Regions from separate parts of the Homo sapiens genome. Here region 1 is linked to region 2. Evidence: fine-mapped expression QTL. Tissue or cell type: whole blood. Region 2 holds a variant in brackets; the other region holds the start of a gene. All regions are shown on one strand. Distances are from middle to middle. Region 1 holds the start of CAPRIN2 (caprin family member 2). Region 2 overlaps CAPRIN2 (caprin family member 2).

Region 1 (10,850 bases), 36 kb after region 2:
CTCACTGAAGGCTCAGATGACTATTAGCATTTTTTAGCAATAAAATAATTTTTAATCAAGGTGTGTACCTTCTTTTTGACACAGTGCTACTGCACACTTAACAGACTACAGTATAGGACAAATGTAACTTTTACATGCACTGGGAAACCAAAAATTTGTGTGACTTGCTTTATTGCAATCTTCACTTTATCATGGTGGTCTGAAACAGAACCCATAATATCTCTGAGGTATGCCTATACTGGTAACAATTCTCTGAAGATTCTATTTTTTTTTCCTTCTGACTTATCTGCATTTTCTAAATTTTCTACCTTATATATTGCATGTATGAGGTGTGATTTCTCAAAAGTACCACCAACTACGTGCTTAGTTACATCTAAAGACCTAACATTCATTTTATACTTAGTAAATCTATATGTAATAAATATTTTATATACCTACTACATGCTACACTCTATTCTACGCACTAGGAATACAGCAATGAACAGACAAAATCCTTACTTTCATGGAACTTACATTGTAAGGGTAGGAAACAGACAAAATAAAACTTCATAGCTTGTCAGAGAAGTGCTAACTTCTATTAAGAAAAATTAAGCAAGGAAAGGAGCTAAGCAGTGTGAATGGGGAAGTGGAGGTATAGTGAGGTGAGAACAGATCTCACTGTGGGTACCTTCAAATAAAAGGCTGAAGGAGGTTGGGAATTGAGCCACTGAAACATCTGGAGAAAGAACATCCCAAGCAGTAGGAATATCACGTGCAAAAAACCCTGCAGAAGTGTGCCTGGGATGTCTGAGGAGCAGCAAGGAGGCTAGGGTAGCTAGAATGGAGCTAGCGAGGGAAAGAAGAGCAAGAAATGGAGTCAAAATGTCAAAGGAAGTGGGAAGGATATTCTGTAGGGCTTTGTAGACACACTAAGGACATTTTACCACCAGAGGGGAACAAATGGGGACTTCTGAGCAGAGGAATAACCATCTTGACTTGCATCAGTACAGGATCACTGAGTTTACTACGTTGAACAGACTTGGAGAGGGCAGAAATAGAAAAACCTGTGAGGCAGAAGTAATTACTACTATAATAAGTAACGCAGATGAAAGGTTATATAGCCTAGATGAAGATGGCAGAAATGGTCAGTTTCCTCATTTATCTTAAAGGGAGAAGTGAGCAGACTTGCTGATGAGCTAGATGTGAGCTATGAGGAGAAAGGAGATAAATTCTCCAAGATTTTTGGCAACTCCTGCTAGTTGATCAAGCCATCAACTGACATAGCTAAGATTAGAGGAGGAGCAGGTTTTGGGGAACAGGGAAAAATTATGAAGTGTCGGATAGGCAACTGGACACAGAAATATTGAGTTCAGAGGACTGATCTGTTGGCAATATAAATTGGGCAGCTGTCAGAGTATTACTCCAGATATCAAAGTTCATACATTTATTATAGAAGCAACATGTGGCTATAAAGACAGTAATGAAATACTGAGAATGAAGTTTGCCTGGCTGGAGCAATGAAATATAGCATGTCTTTAACATTTCTTAGAGAGCTACCATGGGAACAATCAATCTCCAACCCCCTCTCCCCGATGTTTCTTAAAAATAAGGAACACAACTCTAACAGGACACTTCATTCAAGAATATTTACACACAAAAAAGTTTTATCACTTTAAGAGTTATTGAACACACCGTGATTTTAAAACAAAGCTATGCTGAAATGCTGCATGTCCAGCTAAGCCCTCTCCCCAGCTAAGTGAGCGCACCATTTGCAGAGCTCACACAATTCAAATATGTGTCTCAGCAAAATTATAACTTACTACATCACAAAAATTCTGGGTCAGTGAAGAGGAGTCACTATGGAATGGGAAAAGTCCTTGAATGTCAGTATCTATGATGTATAGCGAAAGATTTCAGTTGAAAAACATAAAGACAAAAGACCCACAAACAAGAGGAAATAATTTTCAAATAAATGTGTCCCTTCTTAGCCAGGAGACATGATCAAGTCAAAATGGCAAACATCCACGAAGCACTGTTTTCTTTCCGCGCTGCAAAAACTCTCCTTCACAAATTACATAAAATTTGCAATTACCAGGTATATCATTGAGAAGTTAACCGATGGAAAAAAATGCAAGTAGCTTAATGTTTATAGTAAGCTTTTTTTTTTTTTAAAGGCCAGATATCTATCAGATAATATGCCTCCTGAGAGGGCACACGAAAACCCAGGATAGAAAAGTAGGAAGAGACCATGAAAGGAATTAAGGTGAGGCAGCTAGAGAAAACTAAGGTAAGCTACAGTAAATATTCTTTCACATTCTGGAGCAGAAAGATGTCAGGTTTAGAATATACCAGTGAAGAGCTGAAAGGTAGAGTATGCCTTCTCTTCTCCTTCAGTCCACTCTGGCACATAAGTTTAACTTAAATCTGTATGTTAACTCGTAGTGACAGTCTACACTTTCACTCCTGTTAACAATCTACACCCCCATGCGTACCATCTTCTAGTCAACAGAACAAAAAGTCATATCTGAGATCTAACAGGCACAAACAACAAAGTCTTCTGAAACAGTTTTGAACAAACTATGGATTTTAACTGTGTGTGTGTGTGCTATAAAGACTGATCGCACTAAATCCATGTAGTTTTATTAAGAAAAGAAAACCAGCAAGTCTTACTAAAAGATCATAAGCCACTTACCAACTGGTCTGGATTAAGATGCTCTCCACTTTTCAGGCGATCCTTATAATCCTCCAGTTTGAGCTACAAAAGAGAAACTTGTATCTACCATAGTCTGACATAAAATTCAGAAGCAAATAAAGTAAATGCCAGATCTTGTCTCTAGGAAACAAAGTCCTTGAAGTAAGCTATCAATCTGCAAGACTATCATTTTACTATACGGCATGCAGCAACTGTAGATGAGTTCCAGTCAGGGGAGAAAAAATACACAGAATCACATGAGTCTGGAATTACAAAACCTAAGCAGTAATAAAACTATTTTCTCTTAATGACTCTATTAATAACTAGACTACTTAACCCATGGGGACTTACCTACTAAATCATGTGTCCCCAACACAGTAGCTTCTCAACAGGGAACAATTTTGTCCCCCAAAGATACCTGGCAATATCTAGGGATATTTTTGGTTATCACAACTTGGGAGGGGGAAGGGAGGTGAAGAGTGCTACCGGTATCTTGTGGTTAGAGGCCAGGGATGCTGCCAAACATCTTAAAATGCACAGGACAGCCCTTTACAACGAAGAATTATCCTGTACAAAATGTCAGTGGTGTAGAGGTTACGAAGTCCTACTCTAATCTCATGCTTAAACTATTAGTTCAGTTACCTGTTGAATTATGTGGCATTTTCCTAAAAAGAAACTCCTATTGGAAGTACAGAAACACCAAGAATTCTTTTCTATCATTATCATAGAGTAGGCTCATCTTGAAGTTATTTTTCATATTATATTTGATACTTAAGGAAATTATGAAAAATAAATTGCATTTGTTGGCCCCATAATAATGACATAAACCCACTATGGTATTTTTTTTTTTTTTTTTTTTTTTTTTTGAGACAGAATTTCACTCCGTTGCCCAGGCTGGAGTGCAGTGTCGCGATCTCGGCACACTGCAACCTCCACCTCCTGGGTTCAAGCGATTCTCCTGCCTCAGCCTCCTGAGTAGGTGGGATTACAGGCACCCCCCACCACGCCTGGCTAATTCTTTTTGTATTTTTAGTAGAGACGGGGTTTCATCATGTTGGCCAGGCTAGTCTCAAACTCCTGACCTCAGGTGATCTACCTGCCTTGTCCTCCCAAAGCGCAGGGATTACAGGTGTGAGCCACTGCACCCGGACCCACTATGGTACTCTAAAAGCATTCTTTAGGTTCCTCCTGTATTGGCTTTAGTGGAAAAATTCTTTCCCAGAAGGTTGAAACAAAAGTACTCGTACTATCTGGTATTCAAAATTAAAGAGGTACTATAGGTAAGCTAGAGAGCATAAGCATACATATATGTAGTTCCTCCACCTGAGGGAGGCTCCGTCAATAGATCCTGCTTTGATCATTTATCACAGTGATGGGGAATTTGTGCTGACCTGGCACACTCACCTTACCACACTTGTGATCAACTGCATACGTTAAAAAGATAAATGGTGAGAGCTACAGAGAAGCTACTAGCAACTTGCCCTTCTTTACTTTCTTAGGTTAAAAAAAAAAAAAAAAAAGAGTCAACCAGACTCTAAAGAGTCTCTTCACACTCCTCCATTAAAAGCAACTTTAAGGTCTAACTAGGTCTTGGCACAAAAGTACTTAACAACACATAGGTCCAGATAGTCACTCAACCTCACCTGTCCAAAAGCAGAAGAGAAACGTAATACAGCAAAGCAACGTGCAGTCTGTTTCACAGGCTACATGACTCAGGAAATGAAGAAGGATTTAGATCTTTACAACAGCATTTTCTGTAGCTAGGCTTAACTCCTGGGTCTCTTTACAAGGCTGACTACCACGCTTTCACCTAGCAATCTTAAATCTTCACCTAACACCACAAAAGTAAGTGGTAAAACATTTTCTAGTTCTACTACGGTTAAACCTTCCAACGACTGCAGCAGTTATACTGCAATATCAACTGCTGCAGAAAGTCACAAGGAAAACAAGCTAAAAAATCAGCTATTAACACATCTATGAAAAGAAACATTAATACTACATAAGGAATTAATCTCACCTAAAATAGCTAGCTCTTAAAGTATTTCAACAGCAGCATGCATAATGTAACTATGAAGAATATTTTTATTCCGTTGTTTTGACAAATGAAACAGAAAATGTTTAATATTTCCAACACGTAACCTGCTTGTTTAAAGCAGCTAAACCTAAGGTTAGTTAAATTTTTAGTAGAGAACACCTATGAGCTCTGAAAGAAAAATGTCAGCTCCTTAATCTTTAAGATCATGCATCTACAGGACTGGAAGAAAAAAAGTTACCTTCTTTTTCTCGATGTTTCTAATTTTGTGTTTAAGGCATATGAGTCCATTTTCAATATAGGTCTCATACGCTTGGGAAGGAGATGCAGCAGAACTCAGAGTAGACTGCAGGGGGCTCAAGGCCCGCTGGCTTTCCCCATGCTGACTGTGGTTCACTTGGGGCTTGGCTGACTTCATATTCCCCTCTCTTTCCTCCTCTGAATGGCCTGAAGGTGACTGGTAACCAAAAGGGGATGAAAAGAGTTGCACCATTGAAACAGATGAGGCTGAAGGAGGTGGGGGAAAGTTAAGTATAAAATTAGGACTAGAGGGACACAGCCAGGCAATAACTTCCCTGGAAAGTCTAGACCACTCCCTTAAACTCTTTTCCACAGAAGTGAGCTCGAAACCCAATGATGCTTGAGATACTTGTACTTCCATCCTACTTTTAAAGTAATTAGTGCCGCTAGCCAATAAGGATAGCCTTTACATAGGCAAAATCTCCCAATACGGAGGATGTTTCCAGAAATTCGATTTTCCACATAGGGAGGAAGAACTGCAACGGCTTCAGAGCTCCTTTCTTCTCATGAGGGCAGATCACATTCTAAATAATTCCCATGGCCACGTGATGACACCAAAAGAATAAGCTTTCCACACCGGGACCTAAGGCTGAGCCACTCAAACCTCTTTACATGATCCCTCACCACCAGCCCTAACCTCAATCCTGAACGTTTGGAAGAAAATCCAAACTCACAACATTCTTTTATAGCTCTAAGTGAACCAGCAGCTTCTTGAACAAGAATGCTAACTTCCCCGATTGCTCTGGGGCCTACAAGGCAATCCATCACTACTGGACATTTGCAGACAGGTACTCTCTCAACCTGCAGGAACCCCGCGTTTATTCTCAGTTGTTTGGTTTAGACTAGCCCAAAACCGCTTACACCCAACCAGTTTAAGAGCTCATTCTAGCGAGCCCTTCCCGTGCCCTAATCAGTGGCCCTTGCGCACTTACGTATCCGTCTCTCGACCTCCAAGCACCCGAGGTATCCCTTTCTCCCCCCTTAGGAGCATCCCCAAACCAAGGACAGAACAGGCCCCATGCACGCCAGCGCGCACCCCCTCAAGTCTCCGGGGGAGCCTGAGCGAAGAGCACCTCTCCCGAGCGGCCACGGAGAGCCCTGCAGGCACCGACCCCCACCCTTCCCACAGCCGCCCCGGGTACGCAGAAGCCGCTTCTGCAAGGCCCCGGGGGAGGCTGACCTGCGGAAAACGCACCGACCGCGGCCCTCGGGAGCCCCGCCCCGCCCCGGGGATGCCAAGCCGCCCCTCCACCTCGCAGCGGCGCCGGCCGCCCAGACCTGCCCACCCTCGCCGGGTCAGCCGCCTCCCTCCGCCGCGCCGACCGAGGCCGCCGCAGCCCGACTTCACCTCCCCAGGCAGCCGAGGCCGCCGCTGCCGCAGCCCGGGCCCGCCTTCCAAAGCCTGGGGGAGGCAGGAGCGCTGCGGAGGTGGACCGGCGCCACCCCGCACTCGCGTCTCCTCCTCCTGTCTCCTCCCTCTCCCCTCCCGGTCCTCGCCCGCGGCCTCTGCGGCGCCAGAGACCCAGCCGACTCAGCCGCTCGCGCCCAGGCCCGCCCACCGCGCCGCGCGTGGCTTTTGTAGGCCGCGCCCCGCCCCGGCCCGCTCCGCCCTCGGCCGCCCCGCCACCGCCTCCTTCCGGTGCTCCTTCCCGGCTGCAGCTGGCCGCCAGCGCTTGTCGGGTGTTAGTTCCGGGCCCAGCTTGGGCTGGTGGTAGGTCGGGAGAGGGCGCGGTCTCCCAGCCTTTGCGCAGATTGCGGGGCACCAGGTGGGGCCGAGGCGACGCCGAACGCCGGCAGGCCGGAAACCGCGCAGCCCCGCTGGACCTCGCTGATTGCCGGCGGCACCGGTGGTTTCGCGACCTTGAACAGGTGACTCCAATAGCTCCAGGAGGGCAGCGAGCCCTTCGCGGAACTACCAGATAAGCCATGCTTGAGGCTGTCGTAGCCTAGTGGGTAGTCGTGAAATGCAGATGCGCCTTTGCCCCTCAGATAGCATCTTTCATAGTAGGATGGGGAAAAAACACCGTTTCCTTACCGGGGAATCAGCCTGTAAGAGCAGAATGCCCCAAATCAGCATCGCCATAAAAACGGAGTAGGTGACTTCGCAACCTGCAATAATAGGATTGAGTTTATTCAAGCCGTATTATTTGTTCATGTGACACACATTAATTGACTGGCACGCAGAGAAAGCTGTAAAAAATCTTTGTAAGGTTACATAAAATTAAGAGAAAAGTCTGGAAATATGTAAAAGTTTATTGAGGAAAGGAAGGTGTTTCTGATACCAAATAAGAAACACACACACACACTCAGCAATACTTTGCCCCAACATGTGTTTACTTATTACACCAAGTGGAGTTTTTTAGGTCCTGATTGTCCCTGACGCTCTGATAAAAAATATTGAGACTAGCAAAAGAACAGAAAATTCAGAAGAAGAATCAAGGAAACAAAGGTCTAGTTTTAAAAGCCTTGGTCAACTTCACACAAATTAATTTTAACATTACTTAATACATTTTTTTGGCATCTATTATCCGTGTTCTTTTCGGTCCCTGGTGACATAATGTACCCTAATGTTGCATTTTAACTTTGAATCTCTGAATCCCATATGTGTTCTTCAGGGTCAGAGAAATACTAGATTTTCCCTTTTTCTCATTGTTTATAAACAGAGAAACGCAGAAGATGCTGAACATGAGGAGAGGAAGGCTATGCCTTCACCTTTGGTAACACAAAAAACAGTGGCCATAAGAAAAAATGTGAAGGACACACTGTTGGATCAATGAGTTGACACAAAGTTACAGCACAGCCTGAGTTGTAGTCCGAGCTAATGATGAACCTAAAAATGGTATTTCAGTCAGATTAATCATGAAATGTTTGCCCCCTGCCGGCGCAGTGGCTCAAGCCTGTGATCCCAGCACTTTGGGAGGCCGAGGCGGGGTGGATCACCTGAGGTCGGGAGTTCGAGGCCAGGCTGGCCAGCGTGGTGAATATCCATCTCTACTAAAAATACAAAAATTAGCCGAGCATGGCGGCATGTGCCTGTAATCATGGCTACTCAGAGGCTAAGGCAGGAGAATCGCTTGAAACCCGGAGACGGACGCTGCAGTGAGCCGAGATTGTGCCGCTGCACTCCAGCCTGGGTGACAGAGCAAGACTCTATCTCAAAAAAAGAAAGAAAGAAAGAAATGTTTGCCTTCTAATCGGTCAGGCAAAAAGGAGGCCGTAAATTTTAAATTTTCTACTAAATGGATATTCTTCTAAATGAATAAATCCATACAGATTTACTTCTCAGGAAGGATTATAAAAATGCATCACGAAAGAATGCAAAAGCAAAAATAATTGAATTTCAAGTCCAGTAGGGTACAGTCTGTATACGTATGGCGTGACATTTGTAGGAGAACATACCACAGTAGATACTCTTGAAGCAATGTCTTCTGAACAAGTTAAAAAGATGATTCAGATAAAAGCTTTTCTGCTAGAGGAGATCTTTAAAGTCAGTAAGTCTGGCTTACTTTGAAAGCACATGTCCCCAAAACTTTTATTTGTCAGGAGTTTAGTTTATTTTACCCTCTCCCACTCCCTATTTTCTGTAAGACCGTGACTTTTCTTGCCAACTGTGAGGCAGTATCTGTGGCATGCCACCTCCAAGCTTAGCAAGGAATAACTATATTGGAAATATGATAAAAAGTGTTGTCTCGAATCATTGATAGAAGAATATATTCATTTATTCATTCAACAGATGTTTACTTAGCACTTGCTATGTAGTAGGTGATAAGGCATAATGGTGACTGAGACAATATAGCTTCTGCCTTCGTGGAGCTAAGTGGGAATTCAGTAAAAGCTATAGATGTAAATGGCAAAAACAACCAAATCAAAAAACCCGAAGACAAAAATACTAAAGACTTTAATAATGGATGGTTTGATTTCTACAAAAACAGCCAGACTTTACGTCCTTTGAAAATGTGAAGGTGTTAAATATGCACTGTCTGACAAATGTTCAATTGCTGCAGGGATGGTTATGCTGTAGTCACTTAAAATTAATATAGCTTCATATTGTTGAAACTGGAAAGATAAATCCACCAAAGGATGTGAAACCTGGTAGCGTGTTAGTAGAGATATGAGAAATTATCTTAGACACATGGTTGTGGGTGATAGAAGTCTGTTTCTTATTGGCTCTACGAGACTTTGTGGAGAATTGCCACCAAGAGACAGAGAGAGAGGGAGAAAGTCACCAAGAAAAATAATAAGAAGGCTAAGAAAGAAAAAGACAGGAACAATAACATAAGGTTGTTAAAAAGATAGTACTTTTGGCCGGGTGTGGTGGCTTAACGCCTGTAATCCCAGCACTTTGGGAAACCAAGGCAGGCAGATCACCTGAAATCAGGAGTTCAAGACCAGCTTGGCCAACATGGCGAAACCCCATCTGTACTAAAAATACAAAAATCAGCCGGGCATGGTGGTGCGCCCCTGTAATCGCAGCTACTTGGGACACTAAGACAGAAGAATCGCTTGAACCCAGGAGGAGAAGGTTGCAGTGAGCCAAGATTGCGCCACTGCACTCCAGCCTGGATGACAAGAGCGAAACTCTGTCTCAAAAAAAAAAAAAAAAAAAAAATATATATATATATATACAGTACTTTCACATACTTGCTGATTCATAGAGTGTCTATTCAAATATTTGAGAAACTTTTTATGAAAGTAAAGAACTGAGAAATATAGACCTCAGGTAGGAAAAAAAACTTGCCATAATAGTTTAGGGTATTTTTAGAGAAATATCTAGTTTGTAAGATTAATAATTTGGTAGGCTTATTTTTTCATAAAATTATACATTCCTATTGGTTTTGTTGATACTGTTTTTCTGATATTGAAGTTAATGCATTAATAGTGCTCCACCATTAAGTACCTTTGAAATAAAAGTTCTTTAGAGGAGGAGTAATCAGTGTAGAACTTATGAATGTGTGTCATTAAATCAATAATATCAAGCCCATAAAAATATGATTTCTGTCCAACTTTGAAGTATTATAAAGTGTCAACAGCATGGGCTTTGGAGCCAGACACACATGGATTGGATTCTTGTTCCTGCCCCTTACTAGCTGAATGATCTTGGGCAAGTGACTGAAATTCTGTGGGCTTCAGTTTTTTCAGCTGTAAAACTGCTGATAATAAAACAAACATAATATTACCTATTAACAGCATTGTTAAGGATTTCATTTCGTTTCTGTAAAAGCATCTGACTAGAGACTAGGCCATGAAAACATATCCTCCACTGAGATACCTGTATTTGCTGCTTTTGCCATAATACGAAGCCCAGCATTTCTCCTAGTAGCCAAGGAGAACTAGAGAACTGTGGAATTTATGGCTAAGGAATCCCACCCCCCCGCCCTTATTTGAAAGACAAGGTATATAAAGCTGGTGGACATTTGTGAGTTTTCCAAGACCTAAAGAATCTAGGTCTTCTGCCCTCTAATGCAACATGCACTCCAGGCCGCTTCATCCCTTTCCCTTGCTGCTTCCATGGAGTAAATAAAGTATAGAAATAGGCAATTAAACTTGAAGATTGAAACCAAAAAGAATAAGCAATTCAGTGTTACAGTGTCTTCAAAGGAATTCATTCAGAAAGACATTTTAAAATATTCATATCTTTTGATCCAGTAGCCTTTATTTTAGGAATCTCCCCTATCAAAATAATCAGAGATGCAAACAATCACTTATTTATGAAAATGCTAGGCACCACATTTTTTTAAGTGGTGGGAAATTGTAAACAACAACCTAGACACTCAACAATAGAGAAATGGCTAAATAATGTGACTCTAAGCCATGAATTTTAATTCAAGTAGTACAAATCATCTTTTC
Region 2 (10,748 bases):
TAATAGTGGTATTAAGAAGAGACAGTTCTTTTACCTAAGTCTGTATTAATAAACATCCTCCCCTCACATACATTCCCTGAGGATCACATAATAACATCTAATATTTGCACGGCTGATATACACACCTGGCTCTGTAGTGCTAAGCACTTAGGTGCTTTAGTTCATTTAATTCTCAGAATATCTCATGGAGAATACCTCAGTGTTAGATGAAAAACTAACAGATGAGGAATTAGAGCTCAAAAAGTTTCACTAACTTATCTGAGGTCACATGGCAAGAGAAGTGATAAATGAGGGGTCAAACCCAAGGCATTTAGATTCCAAGATGTTTTCCACTCTTTTTTTTTTTTTTTTTTTTTTTTTGAGACAGAGTCTCGCTCTTCTTGCCCAGGGTGGAGTGCAATGGCGCTATCTCTGCTCACTGCAACCTCCACTTGCCAGGTTCAAGCGATTCTCCTGCCTCAGCCTCCTGAGTAGCTGGGATTAAGGCGTGTGCCACCACGTCCGGCTAATTTTGATTTTTAGTAGAGATGGGGTTTCACCCTGTTGGTGGTCAGGCTGGTCTCGAACTCCTGACCTCAAGTGATCCACCTGCCTCAGCCTCCCAAAGTGCTGGGATTACAGGCGTGAGTCACCACGCCTGGCCTTCACCCTTTTCAATACTGCCTCTGTGTGGATATCCATCCTACCCTATGTAACTGTAAGTTCTTCAAGGATAGGTATTTTATATATTACCAACAGAACTCAGTATGGTACCATACACATACTCAAAAGCTTGTAAAACTTCAAAACTGAATATGCTGATGTATTATAGATTCAAATCCGTAAGTTCCCAAGTTTTGTTAAAGTGGAATTTCTAACATCCTCTTATGAGTCTTTTACCATATGTAGTAAAGAAAATATGCTGGGTTCTTCAAGTAAGTATAAACAACAACAAAAAACTTAACGAAAAAGGGCTTTGCTACATTTGCTATTTAGGCAAGTTAAGCTGAAGGCAATGTAGTAAAGTTAAAATCATGGGCTCTGGAGTAAGAAAGTCACATTCTAATCTTAGTTTACCATTTCCTTGATAAGTGACGTTAGGTAAGTTATTTAACCTCTGAACCCATTTCTCCTGTGAGGTGGAAGAGCAAATGAGTTAATGCAAACAACATGATTAATAATGTCCTTAACACCTTCTAAGTTCCACATAACAAGCAATTATCATTTATCTTTCTTGGGTAATTGCAAAAACTTCCAACTCAACTCTTCTCCATAGGACTTACAAGTAGTTTTAAAACTAAGAGTGCACTTTCAGAAAACAAATTATGACTCTGCGATATACTTCAATCACCAGCTTAACATCAACAACTGTACCACTATTCAACTATGACAACTATTCTTACTTACCCTTTGGGAATAAGGTGCTCCAGAATACTCTCTAGCTTGGAACTGCAGCTGGCTATAATTTCCATTGGAAATTGAAGGGAGTCCTCTATAAGTATCAAAACCTAATAAATAAACAAACTTACATAAGATTATGGACAAAATCATATTAAACTTTTAAACAGTCTAATTCTATATTGCTTTAAAAGTTAAATTGATTATATAATGCCATCATTAGACTTATGCCCTCTTTAAGCAAACTCTACTAATATTGCTTCCAAAGTAAAACATATTTATAGAACATTGCTGTCTTCAAATAAGCCAGGTTTATAAATTTACTACTGCTAAATGCAAGGTGGGGTTGGGAAAGGGTGGTGGTAGGGCAGTTAGGTACTTAGGGCCTCTGTCTAGGGTTGTTTTGTTGTTGTTTGCTTTTTTATAGGCAGTGCCTCGCTCTGTTACTCAGGCTGGAGCACAGTAGTGAGATCACAGCTCACTGTAACCTCAAACTGTTGGACTCAAGCATTCTTCCCAGTTCAGCCTCCCAAGTAGCTGGGACTACAGGTGCATATCACCATGCCCAGCTAATATTTTTTAATTCTTTGTAGAGGTAGGGTCTCACTATGTTGCCCAGGCTGGTCACAAACTCCTGGCCTCAATGATCCTCCTATTTTGGCATCCCAAAGTAATGGGATGACAGGCGTCAGCCACCACACCCAGCCTGTCTAGAGTATTTTTGTTAATAATAAGTAGTGACTAGGACACTTGGAACCATAACAACAGTTTAAGAGAATATCACTATTATAGTCTCAAATTCTATATTCTTCTTTGTGACATAATCTAACAAATAACTAGAAATAATTAGAAAATGGGCATCTTGTAAATATGATACACTTTTAGCAGAGTTAAGTCAACAAAAGAAAAACATTACTCAAATATGAAAATTCATCCTTTGTAAAACAATATGGTGAAACTTTCCACTTCAGTAAGTCACAAAATCAATCTGCTTTTCATACAGAAAATTAGTTCCTCTGTTATGGAGAATAGGTATATTAAAAATACTTTATTATCCACAAACAGGAAATTCTCTACTACGTTGCAAATGACAAAAGGGAGCAAGGTTAGGTAAAAATGGTGTGAGTCAAGTAAACACACAGACAAAATAATTCAGTATAATTCAATTTTATTCAGGGCATACCTTTATAACCACCAGGGGACCGATAGGAATTGGTTATTAATCTCCCACCACGAGTACATCCTCTAACAGATCCCCGGCTATTGACAAATGGCTGAGTAGGTCTGGGAAACACATTCGTCTGTGCTGGGTAAAAGGCAAGGCTACCATTGCTTACTTGAATAGTTCCATCAGGATGATAATTTGCTGCTTAAGAAAAACGATTTTAGGGTCCAAGAGTTAAATGGTAATAGTCTTTATACTTAAAAGCCAATATATATCAAAATCATTAATACAATTTGCTGCCTTTAAAAATAAATAGGAGATACATATATTCATGTATATAATTCATCTACATGACTCAAATACGTAATTCATATATATAATGGAATATTATTCAGCCTAAAAAAGGAAGAAAATTTTGACCCATGCTACAACATGAATGAACCCTTAAGACATGCCAAGTAAAATAAGCTAGTTTCAAAAGCACAAATATTGTATACCACTTATATGAGGTACCTAGAGCAGTCATTTTCAGAATCAGAAAGTAGAATGGTGGTTGCCAGGGGCTGGGGGGAGAGGAGGAGGAGGAGTTAGTATTAAATGATTACAAAGTTTCAGTTGGGGGGAGATGAAAAGTTCTGGAGGTGGACAGTGGTAATAATTACACAACAGTTTGGTTGTACTTAATGCCACAGAACTATATAGTTAAAAATGATTAAAATGGTAATTTTTATGTTATGTATACTTTACGACAATTTTTAAAAAGCAGGCTAAATACTCCAGATGAGGGAGTAAAAGAAAATGGATTCTAATTAATATCTGAGAAGGCACCTGACAAAAATATCCCTTACGTAAGTCACCTGCCCTGTCTTTCAACAGTAGAGGGGAGAACAGAATCAGGTCATCTATGCCTAGGTCCCAGAATTCATATTACTACCTCTTCATCACTTGATTAGCCAAGTACTCAGAATGCTCAATTCATTTGCTCCGACTTCAGTTAAAAAACTCAATAGGGATCTGAAATACCAATACAAAAAATCTACAAGTGCTTCTTAAATTTAAATTAAGAAATGAGTACAAAGTTACCTATTCTTTCATGATTTAGAACAGCATGAAAAATCAAAATAGCCTCCCATCTCTAAGCAAACAGTACAATGAGCATACTAAGTCATATCTTCAATCTTTTATTATAAGATAGAAAAGGACAGATAACCATTTGTTAAAAGGATTAACAGAATGGTTTCAAAACCTTCATATAAGCAGCCAGATAGTGCCCATCTACCTCAATCACTGTCTGTGGTAATCAAAGCAAATAGATTTAAAAATACAAACCTACTTCAAGGTTAAATCCGTCATCTAAGTTCTATCTCTACAAAAATTAAAATTAATAGGTAAACTTAACACAAAAAAGGGCATTAGGTTTTTCTCAACACTGGAGGAACATGTAAAGAAATAATGCTTACTGGTCAGGAAAATACTTCTAAAGTGTCACTACAGACTTCCTAGACTTGCTGTCCATTCAATTGGCTGTCCCTCTAAGTCTTCCAAATATCATATGCAAAGATCTTACCAGTCTCTTGAGAATGGACAGTTTGTTCTACATGTATAGATGGCAGTTGGCACTGGGGTGGTGTTTGTGTACTTGCTGTGGTAAAACTTTGATTGTAGCCAGGTGAATAAGGGGATTCTTTTATTTCTTGTTCTTTTCGTGGAGGCAGAGGTGCATTAACGTTAAATACCTTAAAAGACAAGGACACACTGAGTCATTTGGGAAGTTTCAAAGAAAATGCTTAAGGGTGGTATCCAGCAAAATTGTACATTCAAAAACTTCTATTTTGCAGGCAAAGGACTTGAATAGACATCTCTCCAAAGAAGATAAATGGCAAATAAGCACATGAAAACATGCTCATCATCATTAGTCATTAGGGAAATGTAAATCCAAACCATAATGCCATAAAATTTTATACCCATTAGCAGGGCTATTATCAAAAAGACAGAAAATAAGTGTTGGCAAGGATGCGGAGGAACTGGAACCCTCATGCATTGCCGGTGGGAATGCAAAATGGTGCAGTCGCCCTGTGGAAAACAGTATGCTGCCTTTTCAAAAAGTATAGAATTAACATATGATCCACTAATTCCATTTCTAGGTATATACCCAAAATAACTGAAAGCAGGACTCAAACAGATATTTACACACCCATGTTCATAGCAGCATTATTCAGAATAGCCAAAAGGTACAAACAACTCAATTTCCCAACAGATGAATGGATAAGCGAAATGAAGTACATACATAAAATGGATTATTCAGCCATACAAAAATGAAATCCTGATACACTGTATAACGCAAATGAACTTTGAAAACATTATGCAAAGTGCAGTAAGCCAGATACAAAAGGAAAAATGTTGTAGGATACCACTAATATGAGGTAGAATAGGTAAATTCATAGAAGCGAAGTAGAATAGAGGTTAGCAGAGCTGTGGAGGGGGTTACAAACAGGAAGTTATTGTTTAATGAGTACTGAGTTTCTGTTTGGAATAATGACAAAGTTCTGAAAGTAGTGATGATGATTGCACATTATGAATATACTTAATGCCACTGAATTGTATACTTTAAAAAGATTAAAATGGTAAATTCTGTTACATACATTTTACCATAGTAAAAAAAAAACAAAAAAACACTCCTACTTGATTCCTGACAGATTTTACACCTAACAGCAAAAGTTAATCTTCCTGCTATTATGCTATCATAATAATGCTGAGAATAAAAGCTATACAAGGGTAAGGGGTCTTTTTTTCAAAAACTAAAGATGAATGAAATATTTTACCATTTAATGAATCTTTACCACGTGGCAAGCAACGATCTGTCCTTCTATGACTCTCTAGCTCCCTGATTCTGCTCCATTTTTCTTTACATCACACAGCACCTGATATACAGGTATTTGTCTCCCTAGCCCTCCTACCTCCATACTAAAATGTTAAGTTTCCTGAGCATACTTTCCTTTTTTCACTGCTACAACCTCAGTGATTAAGAACAGTGCCTGGTTTTGTAACTATTCTTTAATCAATAAATGAGTAAGAACCAATGTGTACCGGGTAGGATTCAAACAGGCAGAGAAAACAGATTGGCATGAGCAAAAGGTACTGTGACAAGAATATATAAGGCAAGCTCAGGGGACTAGTGTGACAGGTTATAACAGACTTGAAAAGGTACTGAGTGTCAGAGTACTAAATTTCATTCTGTAATGGAACACTGCTTGCTTTTAATTAGACAAAAGAAAAGGTAAAACCAATGTGGCTATACTGTGCAGGATGAACTGACAGGAAAAGAGTGAAAGCAAGGAACTATTCTATCTAGAAATAAGATATTCTAAGTGATCAGGTGAGTGAATTCAGCTGTCTGGACTCACCAGCCGATCTCCCGGGGTGGTGCCTGCTTTCCATGCTACTCCACTGGCCCCACTACCACCATCACTCCGAAGTGCTTGGAGTGGGACACTAAGCACCAATAGGAAGGGTACTTATTGGCTCACTAAGGCTTTTTTCCCCCACAAAGAACTGTTTTATACTAGTCTGTGTTTAGAGAATAAACATACCAAACTAGCTGTAATATTATTTTTTTAAAAAGCCTTAATTGCAATTTGTAGAAAAATACGTAATTCAAAACACCACACAAATCTGAACAAATCTCCAAAAACCATCTTGAGATCAGGATAAAATAAAATGAAAGTTTCAGCAATGACAGAACACCCAAGTATGTGTCCGGTATTTCAGGTTACTGATGTTAGGGAATAATACTAGTAAAGATATTAGTAATGGTTAGTATTATTAAGCTGTTGCTAGAAATTCTGTTTCTCACCCACACATTTTGTTTGTTTAATATGGATCCTCAGCTTTGCCTGCTACTAATTCTAAAAGAAGGAATAATGCTCTGATAAAACACCCATTTAAAATTCTAGAGGCTGTGGATTTCCTATTCTTCTGCCACAAACAAGTACTGCCATTGGCCAAATATAATTCTACCAACCCAAATAAATTTTACAAAAGGCAAACTTTTCACATAGTATCCAATAATTATGTAAGAGAAACAATGGCTTTTAACAGGAATAATGAACTGCAATCATCATTCATGTTTCATACTCACTGTCTGCATGGCTTGAAAGGGTGCTGTGTTAATGGTTACTGAACTACTACTTGCTGGAGGTGACTGGAAGCCCTGTTCAGAGCCCTTTGCCATGGGAGGATTTGGAGAAGCTAGTGAAGACGGTTGCTTGCCTGGGGGAATTGCTGCCTGGGGAGGAGAAATGCAGCATCAGCCAATCACCTGCCATATAACAAGCAGTTAACTTACTCTAAAACCCAAACTGGCATAAGTCAGCAAGTTCTTTAGGATGACATTTGGACACAGGAATGCAAAAGAATAGCTTTTGCTTACAATTTCAAATCTCAATTGCTGAGGATGCATACCAGTATTTGCTTTGCACAGCTTGCTGACTAAGTGAAAGAGTCTTACCAATAATCAGTCTAACAGATGAGGGGCTGAACTTTTTATACGCACCTAGTCCTTTTCAAACCCTGAAATGGTAATTTCCAGTTAAGAACCTAATATTATTCAAAATTTATACATCAGAATTGGATTTAAGAAAAAACTTGGATTAGTTGTTTAGTGTTAATTTTTCTCTATTTTAAAGACTTATTAGTTAGTAGGTTTCTAAGTCAGCTACCTAAAACAGAAAACAACTCCGATCCAATTTAAGTAATCCTTACCTAAGGAAGCCACAAGTTCTTGACATAACAGATTATAAATCCAAAGGCTTAAAAAAAATACCAAAAACCAATCTCAACTAGATTGTGAAGCAGACAGCTGTGAGTTACTTGGTAACAATCACTTCTTCCTCTTCTTAAAATGAGGAATGAGATAATTTAAATTCAGATCAAGCCAGCACCATAAAAACTAAGGATTATCTATATTTTCTTATATTCTATAATGAATACATATTCTTCTATAACAGTTAACAAAAAATACCTGATAGTTGCTAAATTACTCCTCAAAATTCATCCTACTATGTCCATCTCAAGGATTTACTCAAACTTAGTAAAAACTGTAACTTAGAATTGAAATTGAAAGCACAAACATAATACTGTTAAAATGTTTTTATTTATTTATTTTTTTTGAGATG[A/G]AGTATCACTTTGTCACCCAGGCTGAAGTGCAGTGGCACAATCTCTGCAACCCCCGCCTCCTGGGTTCAAGCAATTCTCTGTCCTCGGCCTCCTGAGTACCTGGGACTAGAGGCATGAGCCACCACACCCAGCTAATTTTTGTATTTTTAGTAGAGATGGGGCTTCACCATGTTGGCCAGGCTGGTCTTGAACTCCTGACCTCAAGTGATCCACCTGCCTCGGCCTCCCAAAGTGCTGGGATTGCAGGTGTGAGCCACTGCATCTGACCGAAAATATTTTTGACAAAGTTAGCCAAAACAAGATTGTAACTCATTCCAACTCAATAAGTGCTAATATTAATAAAATAAAGTTATTGAGCTTTCATTTATACAAATAAGAGACTTTTCTCCTAAAAGTCCTTCAGTGTAAATATAGTGGAAAACTTGACTTAATGCTACCTACACTTTTCATTTTTTTAGATTAAAAATGGACATTTATTGCACTAGATAAGGCAATACCATATTAAATCTATTTATATGGCAAAGCTACAATAAAGTTACCTGTAAAAGTTCCAAGATCACAATATCTATAGAAAGCAATACATTAATAAAGTATAAATGTTACATCATTCAACTAATCATGCCTGTAATTCATAAGATAAACTGGTTCTGCTATTCTTTAAGATACAAAAGAAATTAAGACAATTGGTCTTTTACCTCAGGAGTCTCTGAGGTCATAAACTCTGTTTCAGATCCAGAAGAAGCCTGATCGGTAGTAACCAAGCAAGCATTTGAGCTACAAGTAACTGGAGAAGAAGTAGCCTAGACACAGGAAAATACAAAATATTGTAAAAGGCACATTTTGTTCACTTTATATTTCTTGGGCCCTGGCCTTCCTAATATGTTACTCTTACTGAACACGCACATGTGTCAAGCACTCTGCTAAACACTTTATACGTGTTAATATATTTAATCCTAACAGTAATCTGTGAGGTAGGTACTATTCTCATTTTATTGACAATTAAGCAGTGGCAAAGAAAGGTTAAGACATTTGCCCAAGATCATACTACAATTAAGTGGCAGAGCTGAGATTCAAACTCAAGCAGCCAGCTAGCTACACTGCCTGTCCAGGCCTGGTCACCAAAACTACACATCTCATCCCATGTTCACTGATTCTTGGCCCTGTAGTAGATAGCATTCACGGGAAGGTGAGCTCCGGGTACGTTTAACACTGTAGGCACAGCTCTGCCAGAGATCATAGTATAACTGTGCTTTCATGCTAAGTGCTATCAGCATCCTAAAGAGGCAGGCTGAAATATAAATAGGAAGAATAAGCTCTACATAAATCAGAATGGCACCAAAAATTCTAGTGAAAAATCAAGCTGATAGCATATGTAAAATAAAAATTGGGAGAAAGCACATTAGGAAAAAAAGTTGTGACAACTGTAACCAACAGAAAATTAAAAGAGTGGCTAGGAAAGAATTCTATCGCACAACAGGTATTCAAATACAGCAGAGAGACACCCATAAAAATCTGGCAATAGCAAGATCTAAAGTGTCAGTGAATCCACTCCTTTTATCTAAATGCTTCTATGTGGTTCTCAGAAGCCCAAGTAATAAAATAGGTGAACTGGAAACTAATGAAGGGTTACAAAACAGAGAAATCATGTTTCAGTGACCTTCTTGAAGGAGGCATTATGATATGTTGCTTTTTAGGAAGGAGACTGGGGATTGAGTTTTAAGATCTTATGGAAAAAAATATTTGAAATCCTTTAGAACATTTTATATTACCCAAGTAAATAGGCATAACTTAGATCTGGCCAAAATATTAGAACCATTATAAGATTAGAGCGTTTCTAAAACTAGGTCGTTCTTCTGGCTCTGTCATTAAAGTAATGAGACAAGTGCCCAAGAAAAGTAGAACTGGCTGTTGTGGGGAAATAACTAACTCTGTTGCTAAGGGAAGATTCACAGATGCTAAATTAAGGCATCTTAGGCCACTTGATAGTTAATCTTAAAATGGCTTCAATTTCAGTTAAAAGGTTCATTTAATAACAAAGACATTTACATTAGTATTTAGTTAGAAGTGATGGCAGTTCCTGCTTCCAAATTAGTGCTTTTTAAGTAGACCAGTTGGAGGTGGGTTATTGGTGAATAAACATGATATTTGAAACCAATGTTCCAAAAAATGGGTATGAAGATTCATCCAGGAAGCTTTTAAAAATATAGGCAACACCCTAGAAAATTCTGCTCCAACAGGTCTAAGATCTTATCTAGAAATGTATACCTTATGACATATAAAGTGGGATGGCTTCGATGCAGCCATCCCACAGCCTCCACCAGAGAACTACTAAGCTAGACCAGTGCTTTTCAAAAAATTTACCTTGTCAATTGAAAGCCTTATGTAGAACCCTAAACAGCTAGAACAAAAAATGTAACTGCTTTAGTAAAAGCAGTCAGTGAATTGGAGGAAAGTAGGAAAAACCCCAATATACCCTGCTCAACAAATACAGTTTGAAAATTAAGGCTGAGTGCAGTGGCTCACACCTGTAATCCCAGCACTTTGGGAGGCCAAGGCAGGTGGATCACGAGGTCAGGAGCTCAAGACCAGCCTGGCCAAGATGGTGAAACCCTGTCTCTACTAAAAATACACAAAAATTAGGCAGGTGTGGTGGCAGGCCCTATAATCCCAGCTACTCGGGAGGCTGAGACACAGAACTGCTTGAACCCGTGAGGCAGACCAGACGCTGCAGTGAGCCGAGATCATGCTACTGCACTCCAGCCTGGGCGACAGAGTGAGACTCTGTCTCAATAAAACAACAACAACAAAAATTAATTTCTTTCTTCAGACACTTTACTATGTTAATAAACTAAATTACTTAAGTAGCTCAAGAGAACATAATATTCTTAGACAAGGTACCCTCTGATTTCTTCAGGCTTGGTCTCTCCTTACTAAAGTCAGCAAACCTGTACTATATGTTTTCAGCATAGTCATCGGGGAATCATTTTAGGACAAGTCGTATTTAATCTACAAAACTAGATATGCTTAGAAC

Evidence for each region. PIP is the estimated chance that this variant, and not a neighbour inherited with it, causes the effect.
Region 1: CAPRIN2 starts here. The variant in region 2 is fine-mapped to the expression of CAPRIN2 in whole blood (TOPMed, PIP above 0.99).

What each region holds. Positions count from the first base shown.
Region 1 is chr12:30,748,400-30,759,249 of GRCh38, forward strand. CAPRIN2 (caprin family member 2) reads right to left here and starts at 6,552. Exons shown (of 19, transcript NM_001385503.1): 1 at 6,352-6,552; 2 at 4,945-5,160; 3 at 2,672-2,734. The coding sequence starts at 5,121. LOC645485 (a long non-coding RNA gene) reads left to right here and starts at 6,675. Exons shown (of 2, transcript NR_135046.1): 1 at 6,675-6,872. RefSeq lists enhancers at 5,926-6,005, 6,009-6,178 and silencers at 6,106-6,785, 7,877-8,080.
Region 2 is chr12:30,712,399-30,723,146 of GRCh38, forward strand. CAPRIN2 (caprin family member 2) reads right to left here. Exons shown (of 19, transcript NM_001385503.1): 13 at 8,413-8,517; 14 at 6,681-6,827; 15 at 4,110-4,278; 16 at 2,561-2,743; 17 at 1,387-1,487. Among named protein-coding and RNA genes, the nearest start is that of IPO8, 22 kb to the left of the region's middle. The variant A/G (reference allele first, on the strand shown) is at 7,717.